Regions from separate parts of the Homo sapiens genome. Here region 2 is linked to region 1. Evidence: fine-mapped expression QTL. Tissue or cell type: spinal cord. Region 1 holds a variant in brackets; the other region holds the start of a gene. All regions are shown on one strand. Distances are between the middles of the regions.

Region 1 (4,515 bases):
TCTGCGTGTTTGCTGGTGTCCCTGAGGATGTACCCAAATGAGACACCCTTGGGGCCTTCCCTGGCAATCCTTCCTGACATCAATTTAGCAACATCAACTCCCACTTTCCTGGATAGAGATGGGTTAGGATGTATCCACAGCAGAGCTGCTGAATTCAGGCCTGGCAGGCATCACATTTTATTTTTAAACCACAAGGTGATAGTCTTTAAGCTTATAATTAGAGATATTCTAGAGGAATTCACTCAGACACTTACTGCGTGGTGCACAGTTTGCTGGGTCTTCAAAAGAATATGGTGCTGTCTGAGATTGTAGATATGTGCCCACCATATGGGATTCTCGATGTCTTTCTTCATGTACCTGGTTTCAAATGACTCTCAGCAATATCTCCAACTTCTTCAGGAAATGGAGATAGTTTAGTTCTTTAGGTTTTCTTTCAGGTTGATGTCCATCAGAAAATATCTCTGATGTAATAAGTGGGCTGCAATGGAAAGTAGGATTTTAAAATTTGGGTATCTCTCATACTGTATCAAGAGTTTATATGTTCAATCTGGTTTTCTGCTTGTCAGCATTAAAAGACTGAAAATATGTTTCCACAGTTAAAATTTGTAAAGGTCTTGCGGTAAAGACTGCATTGAAAAGCTTTGGTTCCAGAGAGATTAGGACGGTCCGGGATGATTCTGATCTGTGGTGATTGCTGTGGCATTTCACCAGCATTGTATCTGCTGGAAGTGGGAGCTGTCAAGTCTTTCAGTGAAGTTGTGCAGTTTAAAAAAAGTATCTCCAAACAAACAAAAGCATAGAAACCAAGGTTCTACAGCACATTAGGAGATCTGTGGCTCTTTCGCCATTTCTCCAGTTATTTTTTAGATTACTCTCTGTCATAATAGGCCAAGAACCAGGATACTGTTAAAGAACAACTGCCTCTTGGAGCTGGGGCCAGTGTTAGTGTTAAGGTCCTTCATAAGAAGTGTATATTTGTTGTTACTTGGCTTTGGACTATAGTGAAATACTTTTTAAAATGGGAGTGTCTTTGCTTTCTTGATTAGGTCTTTTCTTTTTTCTTTTTCTTTTCTTTTGAGATGGAGTCTTGCTCTATCGGCCAGGCTGGAATGCGGTAGTGCGATCTCAGCTCACTGCAACCTCTGCCTCCTGGGTTTTTAAGCAGCTCTCTCTGCCTCAGCCTCCCGAGTAGCTGGGATTACAGGCACCCACCACCACACCCTGCTAATTTTTGTATTTTTAGTAGAGATGGGGTTTCGCCATGTTGGCCAGGCTGGTCTTGAACTACTGACCTCAGGTGATCCACCCGCCTCAGCCTCCCAAAGTGCTGTGATTACAGGCATGAGCCACTGCGCCCAGCCTAGATTTGTCTTTAATATATGTTAAAGTAAGTTATTTTTCCATGGCCATGTACTTTCTGGTGATGGAACAGAGAGGGCAGTCTATTATGAACATGAGGAGTTGACTGGAATAATGAATGAAAACCAGCTTTAAGGTTCATGAGTTTCATGGTAAGGGTGCTGAGGTGTCTTACTTGGGCCTTCAGTATGGGTATAACTCATGGAGTATAGGATCTTGACATCCTATTGCAGACTAGAAGGTTCAGCCTGGAAAGAGACTGAAGGTGAGAGGAGGTGGAAAAGAAGGGAAAAGGTGTTTGCGATTGTGATGGAGAAGGTCCTGGAGTTAAAAAAGGCAGGCAGTGGCTAGCAATGTATGGGTTAAAGACCTGTAGCACTGGTCCAGCTCTCCTCTGTACCCCTTTAGTGAGAGGGAGGTTCTCTTCGCACTTGCACCTTCTCCCTTCTCAGCAGAAGTAAGAGCTCTGTATCCCTTGGTGGGAGGGAAGGATGGCCAAGGGTCTTAGTTATTGCAAGATAAACTATCCCAACACTTACTGGTTTAAACCACTACCAATTTATTATGCTCATCATTTCTGTGGGTTAAGGCAGGGCACAGTGAGAATGTCTTGTTTCTGCTTTGTGATGTCTAGAATCTCAGCTAAGAAAACATGGAGGCTGGGGGCTGACTTGATGGCTGGGAGCCTAGAATTATCTGGAGGCTGCTTCACTCTGTGTGTGGGGCCTGGGCTGCTGGGATTTCTGGGAGAGGAGACCGAAGACTGCTTGTCATTTTCCTTCCTTGAAGCATGGTGGCATTGGGAAGTCAGAATTGAAAGTCTGCTTACCTGGAAGCTCAGGGCTTCAAGCTTGAATGTTCCAGTGAACAAGGAAGAAGCTGCATCTTTTCAGACCTGGTGCCAGAGGTCACACACTGTCACCACTATCACATGCTATTCATAGAACCAGTCCCAAGTCCACTGTGATGAGCAGAGGAGGACTGGACTCCACCCCTTCAATGCAAGTGTGTCAAACACACATTGTAGAAGAGGCTGTGGGATGAGAGATGTTTTTGCAGAAACCTTTGGAATCAGCCTCAAATGGGGAGATAGAGAAACCAAGCAGAAAGGGTCTGAGGGCAAACTGGGCCTGCTCTTGCTCTGATCTCCCCTTAGAACAGCTCTAACTTAGACTCTGCAAATGCCTAAACAACTGGTTGGTCAAGTTGATCATATTTTTAAAAACCCATCAGATTAACTATTTGGGGTTGTGTAAGCCAAAGACAAATGGGCTGACTGAGAGCTTTTTCACTGTTCCAAGATTGTTATGTAGGTCCAGGCAAAGAATC[G/A]TGGGACCCATGTCTGCAACAAAAGCTTGGAGGCAGCCTTTCTGGCCATGTCCCCCCCTCCCCATTGCCCCTCTGCCTTCTTGGTTACTAAGCAGTTACCTGGCAACCATGCCTCCTCCACATCGGCTGCCGAGCCAAGAGGCTTAGCCTGTCCTCCCTCAGCTCTCAAGTCTCCCATGGATCACTGGGGACAGGATACATAATGAGATTTTAATTGTCACGTTGAATCAAATCATTTTTTCCATGTGCATAACTTCTAGGCAGAGATGTAATTTCAATTAACTTCGCTTATCTGATAAAACTTTCATATCCTTTAAGCTAATTTCATTTGAACTAATAGGCACTATGCTCCTCTTTGAGTTCCAGCTCAGATGTCTTAGGCAGAGCCGAGATCTCCTGCATACTCGGGCACATTAGAGAGCGTCTGGGCTGTGTGTGCAGAAGTGGCCTCTATGCTTGGACACAGCTAGTTTATGGAGCCTTTCCTTTTGCTTTTCTCACTTGATGAACATTCCTGAAAGCCTATTTGGTTTTATTAGTTTTCAGCTTAAGGGATCAGTATTTCCCAAACAAAAGGTGTCCCATTGCTCTAACTGCCAGAGCCATAAAGATTAAAATTACACTTAACTTGAAGGAATGTCTGTATTTCTCCCTGCTGCTACAGGACCTGGGGCAGCTGGTTCTATCTCAGTGATGAGTTTGAGCATTTGTTTTATTAAGGGAAGGGGGAAGGTGAGAAAGGCATTGTAATTTAATATGTGGGAGAAAAGGGCTGATGTGCCTTAATTTTATTTCTCAGTAACCCCCATGAATGTGCTAGTTCTGCTTAAAGTTCATTTGAACAAAAACATGCCTTTGCAGAAATTAAGCTGCTCTCATTATTTCTTTTCATATAGTAGAATTAAACTTCAAACAGTTTATCATTTGTTCTTTGACATAATACTGAGTTTGGCCAAAACCAAATAACTTGATGCTATTGAGCAACAGAAATTCAAATGCAAAGATGCTGCAAGGTAATGTTTAAACAAACCACACACTGGTCAATTTTTGGATTTCACTGCTAGCATTTTCTGGCTAGCAAGTTTGTTTCTTATCAAATCAAGAAGAGAAATCTAAGGAATGAGAATGAGAGAGAAAGGTTTAGTCAGAAGGAGAAAACACAGTGAGGTTGAAGATACACACACACATGCTTACATGTGCACATTCACACAGATGATGGCTAGGTCCTCAGAGGATCAGCCCTGAGCTTCTAGCCCAGAGTGTCACTGGTTTCCTGTGTGACCTTAGACAAGCACTCAGCCCCTGTTTCTACATGAGTGGAATGAGGAGTGGACTAGGCGCAAGACCTATGGTGGGCTGAGGCTTACTAGTATTTGATTCAAAGCCAAGCAGATGGGGTTGCATTGAGACCACAAGGGTAGGCACTGAGTTTGGGACTTGCCAAAGAAGAGAAGATTAAGAGACTGTAAAAAGAGTCACTTGCTTTAACAGTGGCACTCAAGCCTAAGCACTGTTCCTCATCCTTACTGTCAGCATGATGAGTTTGGGTCTGTCTTTCAGGGATGGACTCCCACCAACCACCTGGGAAGACTGATATATTGTGGTGGTTAATATTGAGTGTCAACTTGACTGGATTGAAGGATGCAAAGTATTGTTCGTGTGTGTGTGTGTGTGTGTGTGTGTGTGTGTGTCTTGTTAAAGGAGATTAACATTTGAATTGGTGGACTGGGAGAGACAGACCCACCCTCAACCTGGGTGGGCACCATCTAATCAGCTGCCAGCACAGCTAGGATAAAAACAGAGGAACAGGCCGGGCGCGGTGGCTCA
Region 2 (4,000 bases), 81 kb after region 1:
TGCATTAGTTCTAAAATTAAACAAAGATCCTGTAGTGTTCTTCAAGGAAATATGGTGTGCCTCTATGACAAAACACATTTTTCAAGCTCTGACCTCTGGGAGCTTCAACTAGCTCCATATTTCAGGCTGACAATGCTCACAGGCTACTGTCTAGTTGCCCAAGCCAGGGCTGGTTAGCCATATATTTTCTACCTCCATCAGCTTTTAGCATAGGGAGGTGAAGGGAGTAAATAAAAAGAGGAGAGCCACTAATTTACATGCACTTCCCCTCCCAAGACCCTTGGGGAGAAGCCTTGGTAATTAACTCTAATGAGATTAAAGTAACTTGGAACTCTTCATTTTCCCAGCACTGTAAAACTAAATCTGCGATAACCAGTGTGTGGGCATTAAATCAAAGTCAGTCCTTTTTCCTGCTATTTAATGGCCCCCTCACTCCCACCCCACAGCCCAGGCTTAAGAGCGAGGGGGAGGGCTGCCAGGCTCTTACCGGCACTTTGCTCCATCACTTCTTTCTGACACATGTCTTGAACGTTCACCGTGCAATTCACAATGAACTCGGGGGAGGAGCAGTCGTTGTTCAGCTGGAATTCTTCACACTGGTAGCACTGGATTTGCAGCGCAAAGCCTGCGAGACAGACGCAGTCGGGTTCAGATCCGGCCCCCACAGAGCCCACCCCGGAAATCACGACCATCCCACGCCTCAGAGCCAGGCGGCTCCCAGCCTCTGGCAGGCTTAGACCACTCCTGGGTCTCCGGGTAGGGCTGGATGTGGCTGACACCGGCAGGGGGCGGCGCGGGTACCTAGGGTCCTACGGAAGAAAGTGGAATAGTGCCCGCCACCCCTGGACCCCGGCTCTAGACACAAAGCGCCCATCCATTACCACCCCAGGCCTTTTCCCAAGAAGTTGAAGGGAGGGTGGGGACGGTACCACCGCAAGAGTGAAGTAGCTCTGGAGATGTGCGTTAGCTCCAGCCTAAGCCAAAGGATTTGCCTAATTGCTAATTGGTTACAAATTACTTAATTACTATTTTGGCACCATTCGTGATTACATTCGCAGACGTCTTTTTAGTTTTTATTTATTTAATTTTTAAAGTCAGCGTTTCTGTGCCAGGGCTCTGAGGATCCCTGAGCGACCACCTGGGAACAACTTGGGTGGAGGTGCCAGACGCCAAGCGCTGCTGCGCCGCAAGTCCCCGAGCCCGGGTCGGCGGCCCTTCTCCGGGGCCGTCCCCGCGGCGACCCGAATGGCCACAGAGGGTGGGAAAGGGCGTTTGTGAGCGCGCGCACCCTGGATCCCCGACCCCGCAGCCCTTTCTTCCAGGCCCCGGCTTTCAGGACAACCGTTCGACTAGGGTCAGTGGTCGGGGTTCCAGCTCTGCAGAGCTTAGTCGGGAGCCAGTAGGCGAACTGGAGAGAGGACGCGAGACCTTTGCGCCTCTGGACGCTTCGGCCTGGCTGTTCTCGGTGTACGCGCTCCTGTCTAGACCCAACTACCCACGCTCCCGCAGCCCCACATCTATCGCACTCTGAGCGCAGCAACCCAGCTTCAGCGTGGCCGCAGGCTGCCTCGCGCATCGCTCACCTGTCGGCGGCGCCACTCCCACGGGGTGCCGGAGGCGCCAGACAACTTGGCAGGGTTCGGGAGATGTCGCCCCCTCTCCCTCGCCCAGAACCCAGCACCGCTCGGACCCTCCCTCCTCTCAAGCCCAGCTTCTCCCGACGGTGCAGCCGGACAAGCTGCAGCCCGGAGTCCCGCAAACCCGCCGCTCCCCGCTCTCCTCCTGCAGCGCGGGACTTGGACACTTTCCCAGCCTCGCGCCCCGGGGCACCAGTCGCGGCCGCCAACTCCCGCTGGGCAGCCCCAGCGCAGGGCTGGCCCCGAGGTGGGCGCCTTGGGGGCAAAAGGGCTGGCGGGTAGATGGATTGTGCGCACCTGGCCTCGGCTGCTGGCCTCTGGGTATTCTCACCTGGAAGCAAGAACAATCCGCAAAAAGTTGCCGCGATGCCTAGGACCCACATTCTCCCGGAGTCCCGGGGCCGGGAGAGGGCAAGCGCATCAGAGGAGGCGACAGCAGCGGAGGCTGCCCCGGCTGCAGCGGCTGTGGCTGCCGAGGCTGCTGGGGCCCGCGCTGCTGCCGCGGAGACGACGGTCGTAGCTTAGAGGAGCCGCAGGTGCCGCTCGCGGAGCCTGCATCGCCCGCGCTCGGGCTCCCGGCTGCGGGTCTCTGCTCCTCCCGCTCGCGCTCCCGGGCCGAGCACCGCGCCTCCGGAGTTGGCGGCTGAGACTGAAGGAACTACTGGCGATCGGGAGCACCCACAAAAGTCTCGCCTTTTCTCCCCACCTCCCACTCCAGGCATCACGTGACGGCTGCCGAGTTGGGGTGGGGGTGGCGGGCGGGGAAGGCTGGGACGGTCGCTTCACATCCCCACCCCCTTCCTGTCTTCCTCTTCTCCCGCCTCCGCACGTTCCTGGGAAAGGGGCGCCGGGGGGCGGGAGAGAACTGGTAGTTTTCTGAGATGGGGAGGTTGGGGGAGCGGCGAGGAGGGCGCAGCAGGTGCCGTGGGGACCTGCCGGGTGCGGACTAGGGTCTGAGGACTGCGTGCCCGGCTGGCCCTTCGCACATAGGAAGGCAGCCTCCCCACTCCACGTCCTCTGCGCCTTCCAGGACTGGTCGGTACCCCAGCGACTGGGTCCAGCCCACACAACTGAGGCTGTCCCGCTGCGGGCCGCGGGAGCCTGGCGCCCCGGGAGGCTGACAGGAAGGGCGCGCGTTCCCGTGCGCCTGGCAAAGTTCCACGCCCGCAGGCTCCGTAGGGTGTCCTGTGCAGCTGTGCCCCCTCTTCCTCCGCGAAGGCCTTCTGTCAAGAACCAGCTCGGCGTGGCCAATCTGGGTGGGGGTGTGGTGGGGACACTGCCTTAACTGTCTCACTTGCCCGGGCCGCCCTCCCTTCTCCCGCCTGCGCGCACCGCTGGAGGGTGCATTGACACCGCCCTGGTCGCCTAGCCTAGGAGAACGCCGTCCCGGGGACACCTGCCGTGAGGTCCTACCAGAAAGCAAATCAGGGTGAGGAAGAGGGTTGTTCTCCTCCATTCCTTGTCTCCCAAACGCCAGCCGGCTCCATTCTGCTTTCCCCAAAGCCACCGATTATTAGCACATACTCCCACGTCCTCTCCTGAAAGGCCATCCCAGCCTCGGACTCGGCCTCTGGCTGCTCCCCACACCCCTCAAATTCGTCTTCTTTCCGCAAAGTCCAAGTGACCCACCTTGCGGACTCCCGGGGATGCCCCGGTGCTATCTTCGCCTTCCTTCCCGAGCCTTGCAGCAGGTGGTGCGGGAGACCGCTTGCCCGCCGGAGTGCGTTGGTGCCCCCGCCCCCAATCCGCACATTCCCATCCCCTTTCCGCACATCCTTAGGGAGCATCCATTTCCGTGGAAATCGCCTCCTAAGCTTTAGCTCCTCTTCACCCTTTTCTCCCCCGGCCACTTCTGGGGGCAGCTCTCTCACGCCGGGACGCTGATCATTTATTTCTGCATCCTCCCAGCAGAGCTGGTCTGTAAAGGGGCTTAAATGACTTTCTTTGTAATTCCTCTGCAGAGATCGTTCCATATCTGCCTCAGGCTCCTTCTCTCCCTCCCTCCCTCCCTCTCCCCCTTCTTTCATTTCTATTTGGTTAACCCCTCGGGGAGACTGAAATGCTTTGACCATTACTCACCTGTCTGCAGACTCTGATCTTACAATTGGCTAAATTACTATCTCTGGAGCAAAAGGGCCAATTTATTTATTCCTTCTGGGAACCCATTGTAAGAGCACGTGTGAGTCATGATTCAAGTAACTGACTGGGCCAAAAGGTCCTTGAGCAAGTTATTTTCTGTTTTCAGAGGGTGCAAATGTGATATAACTTTTATTCAGAAAGGAAACAAAAAGATTTTTTAAAGTCTGAAAGACAAGGACATTTTACATAATTTTCATTTAAGATAAAATAAAACAAATTGCACA

Alleles and levels. Positions count from the first base shown, and alleles are read on the strand shown. Sizes are in standard deviations (SD) of each study's normalised expression.
For the expression in spinal cord of the gene that starts at base 2,293 in region 2, allele G in region 1 goes with a lower level than allele A (moderate effect, 0.42 SD a copy in GTEx).

Evidence for each region.
Region 2: LYPD1 starts here. The variant in region 1 is fine-mapped to the expression of LYPD1 in spinal cord (GTEx, PIP above 0.99).

The regions. Positions count from the first base shown.
Region 1 is chr2:132,586,474-132,590,988 of GRCh38, forward strand. The region is part of intron 1 of GPR39 (G protein-coupled receptor 39); the gene reads left to right. Among named protein-coding and RNA genes, the nearest start is that of LYPD1, 81 kb to the right of the region's middle. The variant G/A (reference allele first, on the strand shown) is at 2,689.
Region 2 is chr2:132,667,913-132,671,912 of GRCh38, forward strand. It overlaps LYPD1 (LY6/PLAUR domain containing 1), which reads right to left and starts at 2,293. Exons shown (of 3, transcript NM_144586.7): 1 at 1,969-2,293; 2 at 488-625. The coding sequence starts at 2,020. NCKAP5 (NCK associated protein 5) reads right to left here. Exons shown (of 20, transcript NM_207363.3): 20 at 3,876-4,000. RefSeq lists an enhancer at 1,156-2,119.